3 linked regions of the Homo sapiens genome follow. The protein of the gene in region 1 interacts with the protein of each later gene in a pairwise test. Each region holds a gene or a part of one and is shown on either strand. Other genes may lie near its edges.

Region 1 (9,161 bases):
CTGACCTCAAGTCATCTGCCTGCCTTGGCCTCCCAAAGTGCTGGGATTACAGGCGTGAGCCACCGCACCCAGCACTGAGTTTATGCACTATTTTGCTATTTCCAAATGGCTGAGGCATACTGAAAGTTTCTAATCCACCATCTTGAGTAAAAAAAGTAAAACTGACCAGGTGCGGTGGCTCACACCTGTAATCCCAGCGCTTTAGGAGGCCGAGGCGGGTGGATCACCTAAGGTCGGGAGTTCAAGACCAGTCTGACCAACACGGAGAAACCCCATCTCTACTAAAAATACAAAAAATTAGCCAGGCATGGTGGCACATGCCTGTAATCCCAGCTACTCGAGAGGCTGAGGCAGGAGAATTGCTCAAACCCGGGAGGCGGAGGTTGTGGTGAGCCAAGATCAGGCCATTGCACTCCAGCCTGGGCAACAAGAGTGAAACTGTCTCAAAAAAAAAAAGAAAAAAAAAAGTAAAACTATTTTTGCTTTGATTGCCTGTGCTTTTGAGGTCATACTCAAGAAATTTTTGCCCAGACCAATGTCCTGGAGTACTTCCTGGAATCTTGCCTGAGCCTTAAAGGTAAGAGAGATTCACTGCCCTCGCTCTAGCAGCTTAAGACTTTTAAAAGGGGAAGTGGGGACTTTGCCTATGTCACCCAGTAGCAGCCTATCACTTCATGTTTGCCTGTACCCCAAAGGTCTTCTTCAGGCCTCTTGCCTTGCTCCCAACCTTTTTTTTTTTTTTGACAGGATCTCACTCTGTTGCCCTGGCTGCAGTACAGTGGCACAATCTCAGCTCACTGCAACCTCTGCCTCCTGGACTCGAGCAATCTTCCTGCCTCAGCCTCCTGAGTAGCTGGGACTACAGGCGCACGCCACCAAATCCAGCTAATTTTTGTATTTTTAGTAGAGACAGGGTCTCACCATGTTGACCAGGCTGGCCTTGAACTCCTGGGCTCAAGCAATCCACCTGCCTCGGCCTCCCAAAGTGCTGGGATTATAGGAGTGAGGCACTGTGCCTGGCCTTAACTCTCAATCTTTCTTGTGAGCATTTGGTAGAGGCCCAACTTCTTATGTCTGTGGCTCTTAGATATTCTAAATAGACGTGCTAGCCCACACCTGGCCTTTAAGAATTTGCTAAAATTTTGTTTGATTTCTTCTTACCTAGCCACTTCTCTCTTGTGCTCTACTATAGATGAAATACTTCATTTCACAGATACAGACTCCTATCCCAGTTTACATGGTTGGCTTGAGTCCTCAGCTATCTAATGGGCTCAAGAAAAATTATTGTTCTAGATTATCTGGCATTTTCTTTGCTAAATTGGGAGCAACACTCTTACATAATTTTTCTACATTTCTTTTCCAATTATAAGTACAAATATAGGAATTTTGATTAGAATTTTACTAAAGTTAACATTAGAGATTGCGCAATATTATACAATTTGGTCTTTACATCCAGAAATACTGGTATTTTCACTCATTTTACAAAGAGCATCTTCCAGATTCTTTATGATATGGAGTCATGATTTGTTAATTGATTTTAACTTAAATTCCATATTGTTACAAACACAAATTGAAGTGGCTTCAATGTTATGGTATTAAAACATATTTAAAGTAAACAGGGAAACTGAAAAGTATTAGGTTGGAACCAAATAATCATAAAGGTACCTAGGATTGTAACAAAAATTAAACATTATATTTAGCTTTGAGATTCCTAGGAGAAAAGACAAAAAGGGAAACAGTACATTATGTAGTTCTCACAGTTTAATAGAAAGAATGCATTTTTTTGGTATGCAGTTCCTTTTAGAAATAACAAAATAGAAAATGAGTTCAACCATTGCTTTATAGAAAACAGGGAAATGTCCTTCAATTGAGCATTTCTTTTCCTCACATTAATAAAGTCTGCACACACCTCCTATGTTAACAGGAAATAGGAATTTCAGATAACAAATGTGAAAAGTTGAAATAATCCTGACAAATTTTTCAAATCAATTGTTGAAAATATTTATTTAGAAAAAAATATTTAGTTGGAAAACAGAAGAAACCAAAGAAAAACACACTTCATGTAAACAACAGAACACTATGCTAAGTTTAGTTCTACAATAAAAGCCACACAAATCTGTGTGTGGCTAACGATGAGGATACAGAGAAAAGAAAAAGAAAATTGAGAGAGAGGTAGAATATAACTCTTTGCTTACTGCAGGTCTTGTCTGGAGGAGAACCTCTGGAAAATAATAAGTTAGGATGGCCCTAGTCTACCAGCATGCCAGAGGCAGAACCAATATAATCTCCTAAAATATGAGATTTGTGTCAATTCTTAGGGTTACTCACTAAGGTGGTTTGGTTCCACCAATGAATAAATTTTCTAATTCTATACTAAGCTCATCCTTTGGAACATCAATCTCATCTCCAGATTCTTCTCCAAGCTTCTTCCACCAGGGTGCTTGTATGTGCTTCAGGGTTGTGAGATGGGCCTGCTTGGCCTTGGCTGCCACAGGCCTGGATCTACTTAGGAAGAGCTCAGGTTCTTTCCCTTCTGCCTCCTTCAGACTTGGTGCCTCTGTAGTGGACAGAAAATAAACAGATGAGCAGAAGAGTCCTATGCCAAGCAGGTAGGAACTTGGAAGCTACAGAGCTGTAACTCTGCAGGCAGAAACAGCATTCCAACTCTGAATGTACTACTTTTGAGAAAGGGTCTTGCTCTATTGCCTAAGCTGGAGTGCAGTAGCAAGATCACGGCTCACTGCAGCCTCAACCTCCTGGGCTCAAGTGATTCTCCCACCTCAGCTTCCTAAGTACCTGGGACTATGCCACCACACCCAGCTAATGTTTTTTCTTTTTTTGTAGAGATCTCACTATGCTGCCCAGGCTGGTCTCAAACTCCTGGACTCAAGCAATCCTTCTGCCTCAGCTTCCCTAAGTGTTGGGATTACAGCCATGTGTCAACATATTCAGCCCATTTCTGTTTTTTTTTGAGACAGAGTTTTGCTCTTGTTGCCCAGGCTGGAATGCCATGGCACGATCTCGGCTCACTGCAACCTCCGCCTCCTGGGTTCAAGCAATTCTCCTACCTCAGCCTCCTGAGTAGCTGGGATTACAGGCGTGCGCCACCATGCCCAGCTAATTTTGTATTTTTAGTAGAGACGGGCGTTTCACCATGTTGGTCAGGCTGGTCTCGAACTCCTGACCTCAGATGATCCACCTACCTCGGCCTCCCAAAATGTTGGGATTACAGGCGTGAGCCACCGTGCCCGGCCATTTCTGTGTTTAAAGGAATTTAAAAAGATGTAGATTTTTGTAAGATGGCTTATTTATTTATATTATTATTTTTTGAGACAAAGTCTCACTCTGTCACCTAGGCTGGAGTGCAGTAGCGCGATCTCTGCTTACTACAACCTCCGCCTCCCGGGTTCAAGCAATTCTCCTGCCTCAGCCTCCTGAGTAGCTGGGATTACAGGCACCCGCCACCATGCCCAGCTAATTTTTGTATTTTCAGTAGAGATGGGGTTTCACCATGTTGGTCATGCTGGTCTCGAACTCCTGACCTCGTGATCCGCCCACTTCGGCCTCCCAAAGTGCTGGGATTAGAGGCATGAGCCACCTCACCCAGCCAAGATGGTTTATTTAAAGAATAGAAACTTTAATAGAACCTCATCCTATAGATGAGAGGCTCAGTTTCAGCCATTTATCCAATTTAAGAATATAAAATTACCAAGTAGTGGCCATTAAATAGAAAACACTGGTCCTTTCTGTTTACATATACTAAAGAAATCCAAGATGCTGACTGAAACACAGGGGCTTCATGGATGGGATCTCTCATTAAATGGATCAGTGGTTATGATGAATTCATTTTTGTAAAGTGCTTCATTAAAAATTATAGGCTAGGCACGGTGGCTCACGCCTATAATCCCAGCACTTTGGGAGGCCGAGGTAGGCAGGTCACAAGGTCAAGAGATCGAGACCATCCTGGCCAACATGGTGAAACTCCGTCTCTACTAAAACTACAAAAATTAGCTGGGCGTGGTGGTGCGCACCTGTAGTCCCAGCTACTCGGGGAGGCTGAGGCAGGAGAATCGCTTGAACGTGGGAGGCGGAGGTTGCAGTGAGCCAAGATCACACCACTGCACTCCAGCCTGGCAACAGAGCAAGACTCCGTCTCAAAATAATAATAAAAAAAAATTTATAAAATGCTCTACAAGTGAATGGCACTGTAACTATTGTCATCATCTACTTACAAAATATGACCAAAAGCTTTTCAGATTACTTAGTAAAAGATGGCTAGTAGGGCTCAGCATCTGAAATTAATAACTTTGGGGTGACACATATGAATGATGGCAAGGCTTGGGGAAACAGGTAAGAAGGTGGTTATAAAATCCGCATCATTTGAAAACATTGTGTGCTGGTCTGATCTATGTAGAAATTTCCTGAGGTTAGGGGATGAGCTAAAGATGCTTAGTAATGGTTTCCTTCTAAAGGTTTTGGATGTCACAAACCTCGCATAGGTTGTTCCTTTTAGAGAACGAAAGTAAAATGAGCACATACTCATTAGCTGTTCAACGTTGGTGCTGATCTGTGCTATCAGAGCTTCTCTGTGCTGCTGGGCTCGCTCTTCTAGGGCCCTGCCCATAAAGTAGTGTTGCAGTCGTTCTTGAGCTTGGGCATGGAGCTCCCTACTGACCACATCTGACATTGGAGAGCCCTGGAAACACAGGACAGAAAAACCTGTCACAGAGAGGACATAGGTATCAAAGTACCCAACCACTTAGCAGAGGTTTTAGACTGCTTAGCTGTCTCTCATTTTATCAATTGAATCTTATGATTGATGTCTATCTTGTACTCTTATGCAAGTATTAATTAGTCTCTTAAAAGTTTTAGATAAAAATAATGGTGGAGAAGTTTTTTGTCTTTCTTTTTTGTATGTGCCTATACTTTACTTTCTCAGACACTGTGGAATTATGGGAGAAGAGATAAGCTTGAGAGATCACAGTGAAAAATTACAAATGGTTTCGTAAAGACACTGGCCTGGGGCCGGGTGTGGTGGCTCACGCCTGTAATCCCAGCACTCTGGGAGGCCAAGGTGGGTGGATCACCTGAGGTCAGGAGTTCAAGACCAGCCTGGCCAACACGGTGAAAACCCATCTCTACAAAAATTAGCCAGGCATGATGGTGGGTGCCTGTAATCCCAGCTACTCGGGAGGCTGAGGCGGGAGAATTACTTGAACCTGGGAGGCAGAGTTTGCAATGAGCCGAGATTGCGCCATTGCTCTCCAGCCTAGGCAACAGAGCAAGACTCTGCCTTAAAAAAAAAAAAAAAAAAAAAAAGACACTGGCCTATAACAGGTGTAACAACGCCAATCCCTTTGTTTCTTTGTTTTACTTCTTATCCCATTCTCACTCCCAAACTTATCCAAGCCATATGTTGTAACTGCTTCTGGATCCACAGAACAAGGGACAAAATCATCCAAAGGACCATGTTCTTTTGGCTAGTCAGCTAATTTAAGGGGAACTTAACTGATTAGTTTGGGCAAGGATGAAATAATCTTAACTTTGGAGGTGATAAAGAACCTGACACCACAGCTTTCTCAAATATTCCTGTTCCTATCCTGGATATGACCCTGTTCCACTAAAACCTTACTTCTCAGCCACAGGATCTTAAACAGCTGCACTAGAGTATGGCTAAAGAAGCACTTTAAAAAAAGAAAAACAGGAGCATGCATCAGAACTACATATAGTGTATTAGAAAAAGAGAGATCAAAGACCTAAACATAAGAGCTAAAACTGTAAAACTCCTAGAAGAAAACACAGGAAAAGCATCATGACATTGGTTTTGGTGATGATTTCTTCATACGACACCAAAGCACAGGAAAAAAAAAACAACAACAAAAACCAGACAAAATGAACTTCATCAAAATTAAAAACCTTGGTGCACCAAAGATCACTATCAAGAAAGTTAACTGGCAGTCCACAGAATGGCATAAAATGTTTGCAAATCATACATCTAAGGGATTAATCTCCATAATATATAAAGAACTCCCAAAACTCTACAAAAAACAACCTGATTAAAAAATGAACAAAATATAACCCTGTGGAAAAAAAAATAAACAAATGACTTGAACAGACATTTCTGCAAAAAAGATAAAGAAACGGCCAATAAACACATGAAAAGATGCTCAAAATCACTAATTAGGAAAGTGCAAGTTCAAACCATAAGATACAACTTCATATCTATTAGCTGCTATCAAAAACAATGACTACAACAAAAATAACTAATGTTGACAAGGATGTACAGAAACTGGAACCCTGTGTGTGACTGGTAGAAATGTAAAATGGTACAGCCACTATGGAAAACAGTATGGCAGTTCCTCAAAAAAATTTTTAAAAAGAATTAGCACACAATCTAGCATTTCCATTTCGGATACTCACCCAAAAGAATTGAAAGCAAGTACACACACAGATATTTGTACACACATGGTCACAGTAGCATTATTCACAATAGCCAAAGGGTGGACGGAACCCAAGTGTTCCTTGGATAAACAAAATGTAGTATATATAATGGAATATTATTCAGCCTTTAAAAGTAGAAAATTCCGACATATGCTAAAACATGAACCTTGAAGACATTATACTAACTGAAACAATGAAGTATGATTCTACTCATGAGGTACTTAGAGTAGGCAAATTCATGGAGACAGAAAGTAGAATGGTGGTTGCCAGAAGCTGGGTAGTGAGGGAATGGTGAGTTAGTGTTTAAAGGATGCAGAGTTTCCATTCTGCAAGATGAAAAAAGTTCTGAAGATGGGATGGTGGTGAAGCTTGCACAAACAATATGAATGTACTTAATGCTACCAAACTACATTTAAACATAGTTAAAATGGTAATTTTTATATTTTATCTATTTTACCACCCTGAAAATAAATAAATTTTAAAAATACAGATACATGAGGCCACACAAAACTTACTGTATCAGAATTTCTTGGGGTGTGTGGGGCTTGGGTATGTAATTTTTATAAAGGTGATTAAATTTGTAAATGATTAAAACTGTTAAAAGCAATATAGTCCTCTCTACAGAGCTTAGGAACTGATTATCTGTTTGTTGGAGAGGAGGCATGCTTCTGTCTGTCTTCATTCTACCTCTGCTCACAGGAAAAATCTTTCAGTTGTGGTTCTGCCCCTCTCTCCAACTCGGTTCTGGTGTTTGGCTAAGGGAGGAGTTGCTAATATGATTGATCAGCACTTAAGAGATTCACTGGCCATATACACCATGGAATACTATGCAGCCATAAAAAAGGATGAGTTTATGTCCTTTGCAGAGACATGGATGAAGCTGGAAACCATCATTCTCAGCAAACTAATACAAGAACAGAAAACCAAACACTGCATGTTCTCAACCATAAGTGGAAGTTGAACAATGAGAACACGTGGACGCAGGGAGGGGAACATCACACACTGGGGCCTATCGTGGGGTAGGGAACTAAGGGAGGGATAGCATTAGGAGAAAAACCTAATGTAGATGACAGGTTGATGGGTCCCAAACCACCCATGGCACATGTATACCTATGTAACAAACCTGCATGTTCTGCACATGTATCCCAGAACTTAAAGTATAATAATAATTAAAAAGAAGAGATTCATTGGCCATGTTTTATTGGTGGCCAGGCTGATTATTTTTAAAATCTCAGGACCCCTAAATTTTTTTTTAAGCATTTAGGTTAAAACAACCTTTTAAAAAATATAGCTTTATTGACGTAAAAATAACATACACTAAACAACAAATATTGAAAGGGTACAATTTGCTAAGCTTTGACATACACATACCTAGTTCATCACTACGTTTCCTTGTTTCCTTTTGTAAACCCTTATCCTCATCCTACCCATCCACCAACTACTTATCCCAAGCAACTACTTATCTATTTAATGTTACTATAGATTGGTTTATATTTTTAGAATTTACATAAAGGGAATCATAAAGAATGTATTCTACTCTGTCTGGCTTCTTTCATTTAGCATAATTATTTTGAGATTCATCCACGTTTTTTTTTCTTTTTCTTTAAAAATTTTTTTTGAAGACAGGGTCTCACTCTCTCACCCAGGATAGAGTGCAGTGGTGCCATCACTGCTCACTGCAGCCTCGAACTCCTGGGCTCAAGCGATCCACCTGCCTTGGCCTCTCAAAGTGCTGGAATTATGGGCGTGAGTCACCATGCCCGGCCAGAGATTCATCCATGTTGTTGAGAGTATCAATTTATTCCTTTATACATGCTGAATGGTACTCCATGGTTCTAGTTTTTGGCCATGAGCATTCATGTACAAGTGTCTATATGGACATATATTTCTTTTTCTCTGGGGTAAATATCTAGGAGTAGAATGGCTGAATCATATGATAGATGTATGTTTAATTTTTAAAGAAACTGTTGAACTGTCTTCCAAAGTAGTTGTACTCTTTTACATTCCCCTAAGTGGTGACTCTGCCACATGCTTGCTAACCTTTGGCATGTTCCATTTTTAAAATTCCAACAGGTATGAAGTATCTTACTGTCGGTTATTTTTTGAAAAATTTTAAATTTTTATTAAAAAAATTAGAGAGAGGGTCTCAATATGTTACCCAGGCTGGTCTCAAACTGTTGGGCTGAAGCAATCCTCCCACCTTGGCCTCCCAAAGTGTTAGGATTACAGGTATGAGCCACTGTGCTGGGCCCTTATTGTGGTTTTAATGTGCATTTTCCTTAGTGATTAATGATGCATTTTTCATGTGTTTATTTGTCATCTATCTTTTGGTGAAGTATCTGTTCAAAGCTTTTGTCCATTTAAAAAACAAAACAACTAGTTCATATGTTTTCTTACTGTTTAGTTTTGAGAGTTCTTTCTATATTATGGATATAGGACCTTTATCAAATATATGCTTGGCAATGATATTCTCCCAATCTGTGCCTTGTTTCTTTAATTCTGTTAATGGTGTCTTATGAAGAGAAGTTTTAAATTTCAATAAAGCCAATATATCAAATTTTCCTTTTTGAATCATGCTTCTGGTATTGTATTCAAGAAAGGTCACAATATTTCTCCATTGTTTCCTTTTAGAAGTTTTATAGTTTTAGGTTTTGCATTTAGGCCTATGATCTACTTTGAGTTACATTTTGCATATGAAGTGAAGTATGGCTTCAAGTTCA
Region 2 (5,914 bases), on another chromosome or scaffold:
GTAAGAAAAAGTTGTGGGGTTTTTTTGGTCATTATCATTAAACAGCAATAGCTCATCTATCATCCACTAAACATTTACTGAGAAGCTTTATATGCCAGACAATGTTAGTATGTTTACTAATATATATATAAATTTTCTGACCATTTTTGCTTCTAGAAAATATTTATTGATGCTTTCTATGTGCTAAACACTGGTTGGTATTGAGAACATAAAAGGTAAATAAAACTAAGTCCATGTCACTTATGAATTTATGGTCTTGGTTAAGAAAAATATATAAAAAGTAATTATAAATATGTCATGTACATGTGATAATAGGTTATAGAGCTATGGATGTTTTGGTATGGCAGAGAGAGAAACAGATCATGAACACCCTGCATGCTATTTTAAGAAGGTGGGCTTTTCTAAGGGAAGCCACTGAAGATTGAAAAGCTGTATATTAAGATCTGTACTTTGAAAGACGATTCAAGTGAGAGCATTGAAGGTAGATAAGAGATGAGTAAGCTCGGAGATAGGGAGATCAGTAAGTAAGTTATTATAATAATCCCAGTGACAAGTGGTGAAACCCATGCAAATAGATAAGGGATCCACCCGAGAGATGTTAAGGATACGGAATTGATGGGGCTTGGTGACCAGTGAGATCTAGGGTGAGAGAAGACTTAAGGCTACCCCTAATAAATAATACTGTCATTCCATCTTTTTAATTATTTTTTTAATATTTTTAAGTTCCAGGATGCATGTGCAGAACATGCAGGTTTGTTACACAGGTATACATGTGCCATGGTGGTTTGCTGCACCTATCAACCCGTCATCTAGGTTTTAAGCCCTGCATGCATTAGGTATTTGTCCTAATGCTCTCCCTTCCCCTTGTCCCCCCCACCCCCCGACAGGCCCTGGTGTGTGATGATGTTCCTCTCCCTGTGTCCATGTGTCACTTCCATCTTTAATGGGTGACTGGGTGACATCCTAAGGAAAGAGTATAGAGGAAAAGAAATAGATTTTGAGGGTGCAAATAATTCTATTTTGTCCACCCAAAATGATTTGGTGGCCCAGGGGAAGATTACTAGTTGGAAATGTAGATTTAAGTGTTGGAGAGGGAATGAAGTTTTTGGCTTTGGATACATTGACTTATTTATGTCTCATCCGTAAAACTAAATACTTATATTGTCTCACTAGATTTTGTGGTTTAAGAACCAAATGGATAATATGTAGGTGTTTTGAAAATCGGTAGGAAGAGAAGAATTTAGAGGAAGACTAAGTGAGACTTACATGACTTCTTTTAAAACTATACAAAGTAGGAGTCAAAATAATGCAGATGTTTCAAATATGAGAAACTCATGGGAATACAAGTGCTGTTATATTTCAGATTGGAGCTCATCTGTTCTCAGAAGCTAAGCAGGATCAGGCCTGGTTAGTACTTGGATAGGAGAAAGCTCCTGGAAAAGTTAGCAAGACAACTAACTAGAAATCAGACTAAAAACTAAATGGAAATCAGATAAAGCCACCTAATGCATAGATACTTATACAAATAATTTTTGTCTTAATTTTTAAAGACTTATAAATGTTCCCAATATGAAGCTGTCGGCTTAGTTTTGTCCGTTTGATTGGGCAACATTTTTGTTCTGGCCCCAAGTCAAGGACAGATCTTCGTGATGAAACTCATTATACAATCCTATAAGGTCTAACCATGTTTTTTGGATTTCAGAGACATTCCTAAATAGGTATCTGTAATTCTGTCTACCTCTACGAAAATCATACGGTCAGACAAAATCTGAAACTTCCCAGGAGGTAGTTTCCTACACCAAAGCTATTCAGAATTTGTCCTAAATGGATAAGTTGATTTCGTAACTGCCTAAACAATTTAATTTACTATAAATTTTTCTTTTTAGGATAAACATTGAATGTGGCCTGCCAGATCCTTCTTAGGAAAATCTGCATTAGCCCAAAGTAGACTCTACCATTGGACAAAAATGTATCAAGTTTGCTTTCCCCTGTAACATTACAGAACTTTCCTGTATCTCCTCTTTATAAGGAATGGATGAATTAAGATAGAATTAGGTTTGAATGCAAGTACAGTCTCAAATTAACAGTGGCTTAGTAGATTACTGTTCTTTCACGTAGTTCAAGTCATCTTTTCTATATGGCCCAGAATTTTGATGTGATTATTTAAGAGTGAGCACTTTCCTAAGAAATACTAGTGGAATTCTCATGCTTCATATCATCTTTATATATATATATATGAAAATATCCTTTAGATATTTCTGATCTTCTTTATTCACTATTTTTTGTTTTACACTGTAAACTCTTCAGCATCTGGTATATGGTAAGCATTCAGTAAATATTTACTGTATTAGGCAGTCACTCCTTTGAATATTTTTTCCCTTGGTAATGAAGACACTTTCCTGAAAATATTTGTTTGCCTCCTTGTAATTTTAAAGGAATAATGACAGTAAAAAATACATAGATATGTGTACAGACATAAAATATATATTTTAAAAATATATATTATCTAGAATCTTTTGAACTTAGTGTCATAAATAGTTCATCAATTTTATCTAATTCATTGCATGAGTAGTTTTATTTGAAAACTTCGTATAAGATTAATGTACTTTGTGATAACAAAATTTGATCTGCATTTCCAGCAACGTGAACTAGAAGAGTGGCAGTTGCAGCAAAGGCGGCAAGGATTTATTAATGCAATTATTGAAGAAGAAAGGCTAAAACTTCTTAAAGAGCATGCTACAAACTTACTAGGCTATCTCCCTAAAGTAAGTGAGATTTATCTCAAGTTGTAATCTTCATGACCTGTAATAGTGAAAAAAACATGGTATTTGGATTTTAGAGTGCCTTGGTTTTGCTCACTTCTTGCTCGGTTATGAAGCAGCAATGGGATCCTCCTGTCCAGGCACTGAACCTCTCTGGGCCCATTTCAGTATATCTAAAATGATTGGTCTTAGCACATTATTAGATGTATGAGCTTGATTTACTGAATTTGTACCTTATTTATCGCCCAGGCTGGAGTGCAGTGGCAAGATGTCAGCTTACTGCAACCTCTGCCTCCCGGTGATTCTCCTGCTTCAGCCTCCTGAGTAGCTGGGATTACAGGCGTTTGCCACCACACCCAGCTAATTTTTGTATTTTTGGTAAGGACAGGATTTTGCTATGTTGGCCAGGCTGGTCTTGAACTCTTGGCCTCAGGTGATCCATCTGCCTCAGCCTCCCCAAGTGCTGGGTGGGCCACCACACCTGGCCTGAGTTTGTATTTTAGAGTTTCTTTTCTCCCCTTTTAGTGTAGGAAATCTAAAGCTACCCTAGAACAACTGTAGTACTTACATGCCAAAGATGAGAATGTGTATGAAAACATTGTCACTGGTAACACCAGTAATAGGCACATGGTTGAACTGAGCTTGAGACTACCCTAGAACTGTAGTACTTACATGCCAAAGATGAGAATGTGTATGAAAACATTGTCACTGGTAACACCAGTAATAGGCACATGGTTGAACTGAGCTTGAGACAGATCTGCTCTACAGTAGGAAGTTATAACTAGTTAAACTTGATTTTTAAAATTCCAGAAGATAGTGAATTTTAATGTATACCTGAGACACACTGTGACTTCAAATAAAATAGTAACTGGCTGGGCATGGCAACTCATGCCTATAATCCCAGCACTTTGGGAGGCTGAGGCAGGAGGATCACCTGAGCCCAGGAGTTCAAGACCAGCCTGGGAAACATGGGGAGATGCCATTGCTACAAAAAATAAAAAGTTAACTGGATGTGGTGATGCACGCCTGTAGTCCCAGATACTCTGGAGGCTGAGGTTGGAAGATTGCTTGAGCCTGGAAAGTTGAAGCTGCAGTGACCCATGATCTTGCCACTGCACTCCAGCCTGGGCAACAGAGTGAGACCCCGTCTTGTCTTAAAAAAGTAATAACAGTTTCATAGGCCACATAAACATCTAGACTCATATAAATAAGATCGCCATCTTTCAGCTATAGAAATGCCATTTCATATTTTATTCAGTAGAATCAAGTGCATATTTATTTTATTATATTCACTCTGGTGCTAAGGAAGGAAAAAGATATATAGGTAATTACTGCCTGGCCACAGGACTTGATAGTCTAATTGGTTAGAAAGGATTAAGGAATACAAAATGATGTATTAATGATAAAATCCATATGTAATTAATACATTTCATAAACTAAATTATAAATTGTAGGAATGTCTTTCTTTGGGATTTGATATTTTTGTAGAGGAAATAATTGTGGAGGCAGCAGGAGGGATTAATAAACTTGATATCCAAAAATGACCTTTATCCTTTAGGTCCTAATGGTGCCAAATGACTTCAGTTATCCCTAAAATTCTTTATTCTTTAGATTGCAATTTAAGTAAATATTTAATTTTGTTTTAAAGAGCCTTTTGCAGTATACTGTAGGGGAAAAGAAAAATAGAACAGTGAAGAATTCCAAAGGGTTTGCTTAAATGGCTTAACTCCAAACCTGGATTCTTTTCTGCAAGATTGACTGTTTGCTGATTAGCCATAGAACTGAGGCATGAAGAACTAATCCCATGCATGAATCTACTGAAGCTCACCATTATATCATATTATAGAGCTATTTAAAGAAAAGGGTAGGGTACAGTATAGATGAAGTGCCTTCCTATCTAGGTAATCCAAGCAGTAGAACTTGTAGAAGAGCTCAGATTCCTATGAAAAGCTCCTACACTAGAGCTGATAAATCAGAAAATTGGGTCAGTCTAGGAATATTCAATATATATGTAAAGTCTTATTTTTTGAAAAGTATTGATTTTTTTAAAGTTTCATTAATCTGTTGAATAGATTTCATTACCTTGGAGATAACTTTACTAATCTTATGTCTGTCAGTCTTAAAAGCATTTAGTGAAATATTCTGGTATTCAAAAGTAACCCACAAAGTATTTTTCTCGTAGGGAGTATTTAAAAAAGAGGATGATATTGATCTGCTTGGTGAAGAGTTCAGGAAAGTATATCAACAAAGGAGTGAAATTTGTGAAGAGAAATGATATCATCAAAATTGGGTAAAGCATAGATTTTTTGCATGTTACCACTAGATGTCAGCATAACTTTTGTTTTACAGTTCAGTGGCATTAGGTATCCATTGTCTGTTTGGATTTTGTAAATCATCACTGAATTTCATAACTTGTAAACAATTATCAGATACAAATTAATTTTAATCAAGCTGTTATTTTTGTACTGATAATTTCAAAATCCGATTTCTACAACACTACAGAGCACTGTTTGCATCCCCATCCTCAAGACAGTATATTTACCTTGACTAATACAGAACTCTACCCCAAAGTGAACTGCCTTCTGTCTGTGTTTACGAACTTTACTTACTTGATTTAGCCAGGGAAATAAATATTTGGAATTTTCTTTTAAAGCATCTTTTTTGGTCTACTGTAAGGGAGGAGAATTATAAATGAAAAGAGTCAAGAATTTTATTATCTGATGTGCTTAATTGTCACGCTAAGAACTTAAAAAACAACTCAAAAAGAGCTAATAGCTAATCTCCTAAATCTAAAAAGGGAATTCTTTGAAATTATTTTGCTTTCATAATCAAATATATTACTTATGAAGAATAAAAATAATTCAAACCACTACAATAAGTAAAATGGGTATCCATCACATACTGTCATAGAGACTAACTGAAGTAGATCACTTATGAATTTCCCCATTCAAGTGCTTTCATAAATTCCTCCTCAGTGAAAGATAGCATCTTGGCAGCTTCAATATGCATCTGTTAAAAAAAAAATCAATATTGTCTGATTTAGTATTAAGAGTAGGCCACCAAACAACAGGAAGTTTGTAAAAATGTGTGGATAATATATTGTCAGAATATAAGTTCTGTTGTAGGAATGTATACTCTTAATTCCAATAAGC
Region 3 (3,179 bases), on another chromosome or scaffold:
TTGCTGGGAGTGCTGATTCTGCTCATTCTGGAGCTTATATTTCCTCAGTTCCAGAACTACTTCTTATAAAAGTTATAAATCACAACATTTAAATAAGATCCCAAAGTGCTACTGCCTTCTTAGAAATTCAGCTATAGTCATTATATTAATAAATCTTTGTATAGGTGAGAGATGGGTTTTGGTCTGTTCACCCTCAATCCTGTTCTTTCCTGACTTTAAGTCGATTCATTCACCACTCACTCACTCACCAGCATTTACTGTATAGCTACTACAGGGCAAGCCCTGGGCTAGGGAGTCAAAGAGAAATGACGACTGAAGTACGGTCCTGGCCCTGGAGCAGTGTAGTCACATTCTACAATGTACAGTTGGATTAATGCTAATTACTTACTCAGACTTCGCAAAAGGAAACAACCAGAGAAACAGTCTTTTTCCCATGATCGTAAACACTCCCTATCTGGTGGACTTGCTGTTCTTCCTTCTATATTCAAAAACAACCAATGCCTCTTTTACTTTTAACTTTATTTGGCAAAGCAGCACTGCATAAACTGTTCAAGAACTAGGACACAGCTTACACAGCATGTTAAGTTCATATACATTATCAGCAGCAAATTAGAAACAGAAAACCACACTAAACTACAAGTCTCCTATAATTTTGAGAGAGAGAGAAGGGAAGAACTAAGTCAGTTATGTCCAATCTGAACAGCTGAGTGTTTACAGGACATCACCTGCCATCTTATGGTTTAATATTTACAAATGCCTAGTTTTAAGGTAACAAAGCAGCTGATTGTATCTACAACATGCTATTCTATGACACCACATCAAAAGCTTTAAAAAGAAAGCTCATCTCTATTTTCTTAGTAGCATCTAACAGATATCCAAATACCAAGAATCTTAACTTGTGAATGGTGGTGTTATCCAATGCACAAAAGCAATCTGATAAATTAATATCAGAACAGAATTAAGTGTCCAAGAAAAGAAAAACCACTCCTCAAAATCAATTCACAAACTAAGTTTTCCATTTTACAGAACCCTTTCTTTTAATATTTCCAAGTAAAATATGGGCATGTTAAAGTAATATTACACAAATTTATACTTTGCATCCTTCCTCTACCAATTTGGCTCTGTGCCTCTTTGAAGAATCAGAAACCCTAAAAAAACACACATTTTCATGCTGAAAATAACAGTGTAACAAAGTCCAAAACAAGCTGTGATGGTGTTGGTTTTCAAAAAGCTTTGAGGACTGAGATGAGCAATCCACTGTAATTTTATACTGGTCAAGCTGATGTTGCTTTTACAATTCATCCCTGTGAGGAAAAAAGAGAGAAATACATTAGTAGGAGTTACACACTACCCAATTTGGCTTTATAATAGTTTAGACACAACTATTAAGTCAATAAAAATGCGCTGATCACCAAGCAATATATTTAAAAAATAAAAATGCAAACAACCCAAGTGAAAGCAACAGAGGGTCAGCCATTCCAAACATCTTCCATGCCACTCCAGAACCAAGTATGCAACCTAAAGGGCGTGAGTTCTTCATTTTTGATTTCTAAAAATAGATTTCTTCCTTCAATGTCAAAATTCAGAAAAAATATCTTTTAGATCTACGGTCATCTTTACACTATAGTAAAATGACAACTTAAGTGTTTTAGAGTTCAAATGAGTTGATAGTTACATTCACAAAATTGGACAGAAATGTGGTCTTTTGCTCAGAATGTCCACTAGCAATTGTGGAGTGGGTCAATCTCAACCCAAGCGCTCTGAGAGAAAAGGCATCATCTGTAGGTATAATATACCTGTCAGCTGATTTCATAAGGCAGCTTTATCAGCTCCAAAAGAAACCATTCACTCAGCCAGGTGCAGCACTGTACCAGCAACTGCCAGTGAGAGGAAGGAAGGAATAAAAATGCAGTCTAAAATAAACTGTATGGTATCTCAGTTATACCTCAGTAAAACTGTTAAAAGTGAAAAAATGAATAAAACCACGAGAGAAGCCCACAAGCCTCATAGCTGAAGGTAATGTGAGTGACAAAAACAAGAACTTTAGGGGTAAAGAAGCATGATATTGATAATTAAGTCTCAAGTGGTTTAAGAAAAAGGAAAAAAATTACATATATGTATATATAGAAAGAGGGGAAAGAAATGTAGAAAAATGATAATAATTGATGACTCTGGATGAAGAGATTTAGGAGTTATTTGTACTATCCTAGCAACTTGTTGGCAATAAAAATTAAAGTTAAAAGTTTTGAAAAAGTTGTTAAGATAAATTTGAAGGGAAGAAGAAATAAAGAGCTCATAATTTCACAAGTAAGTGGGGGTAAATTACTGGACAATTTTTTTAAACTAAATTTTGTAAATTGTGCAAGAAAATATTTTTAAAATCATTTCTCCAATAAGCTGCCTTTATCCTATAGTATTGGATTATCTATTAAATGACAAATCATAAGTCTGCTTCCTCTTAATATATTCTTCCAAATAACAATGTTATAATTCTCATAGAACAGCTTTTACTTAACTCATGCAGGCATTAAAATATTTGGTCAACAAAGAATTATTTGCAAAGTGCTCTATTCATAAAGTAAAATTCACTTCTGCTTTTTAGAATATGAACTGAAGATATTGTTTTTCTTGTTTTGGCTTTTTTTTTTTTTTTTTTTTTTTGAGACAGAGTCTCGCTCTGTCACCTAGGCTGGAGTGCAGTGGTGTGATCATGGCTCACTGCAACCTCTGCCTCCCAGGTTCCAGCAATTCTCCTGCCTCAGCCTCCCGAGTCGCTGGGATTACAGGCAGGCACCACCATACCCGGCTAAATTTTTTTTGTATTATTAGTAGAGACAGGGTTTCACCACGTTGCTCAGGCTGGTCTCGAACTCCTGACCTCAAGTGATCTGCCCACCTCAGCCTCCCAAAGTGCTGGGATTACAGGTGTGAGCCACCATGCCCAAGCCAAAGATATTGTTATTTTTAAATAATTTACTACAATTTGCCAGGGGCAGTGGCTCACACCTGTAATCCCAGCACTTTGGGAGGCCAAGGCGGGCGGATCATGAGGTCAGGAGATCGAGACCATCCTGGCTAACATGGTGAAACCTCGTCTCTACTAAAAATACAAATAATTAGCCGGGTGTGGTGGCATGCACCTGTAATCCTAGCTATTCGGGAGGCTGAGGCAGGAGAAT

What was found.
Region 2: the proteins of IQCB1 (region 1) and MNS1 interact in binary tests that used the Homo sapiens proteins (3 or more experiments, as listed by UniProt).
Region 3: the proteins of IQCB1 (region 1) and PCMT1 interact in binary tests that used the Homo sapiens proteins (3 or more experiments, as listed by UniProt).

Annotation. Positions count from the first base shown.
Region 1 is NC_000003.12:121,768,018-121,777,178, forward strand, and holds the end of IQCB1 (IQ calmodulin-binding motif-containing protein 1), read right to left. Parts: intron 4,697-9,161; coding exon 4,540-4,696; intron 2,558-4,539; coding exon 2,328-2,557; 3' UTR 1,744-2,327; downstream 1-1,743. UniProt on the Homo sapiens protein: Involved in ciliogenesis. The function in an early step in cilia formation depends on its association with CEP290/NPHP6.
Region 2 is NC_000015.10:56,428,224-56,434,137, reverse strand, and holds the end of MNS1 (meiosis-specific nuclear structural protein 1), read left to right. Parts: exon of another isoform or gene 1-963; intron 964-2,639; coding exon 2,640-2,765; intron 2,766-3,983; exon of another isoform or gene 3,984-4,944; coding exon 4,945-5,037; 3' UTR 5,038-5,414; downstream 5,415-5,914. Other genes in the region: TEX9 (testis-expressed protein 9), read right to left, coding at 5,694-5,771. UniProt on the Homo sapiens protein: Microtubule inner protein (MIP) part of the dynein-decorated doublet microtubules (DMTs) in cilia axoneme, which is required for motile cilia beating.
Region 3 is NC_000006.12:149,808,741-149,811,919, reverse strand, and holds the end of PCMT1 (protein-L-isoaspartate(D-aspartate) O-methyltransferase), read right to left. Parts: intron 1,305-3,179; coding exon of another isoform or gene 1,292-1,304; 3' UTR 501-1,291; downstream 1-500. UniProt on the Homo sapiens protein: Initiates the repair of damaged proteins by catalyzing methyl esterification of L-isoaspartyl and D-aspartyl residues produced by spontaneous isomerization and racemization of L-aspartyl and L-asparaginyl residues in aging peptides and proteins.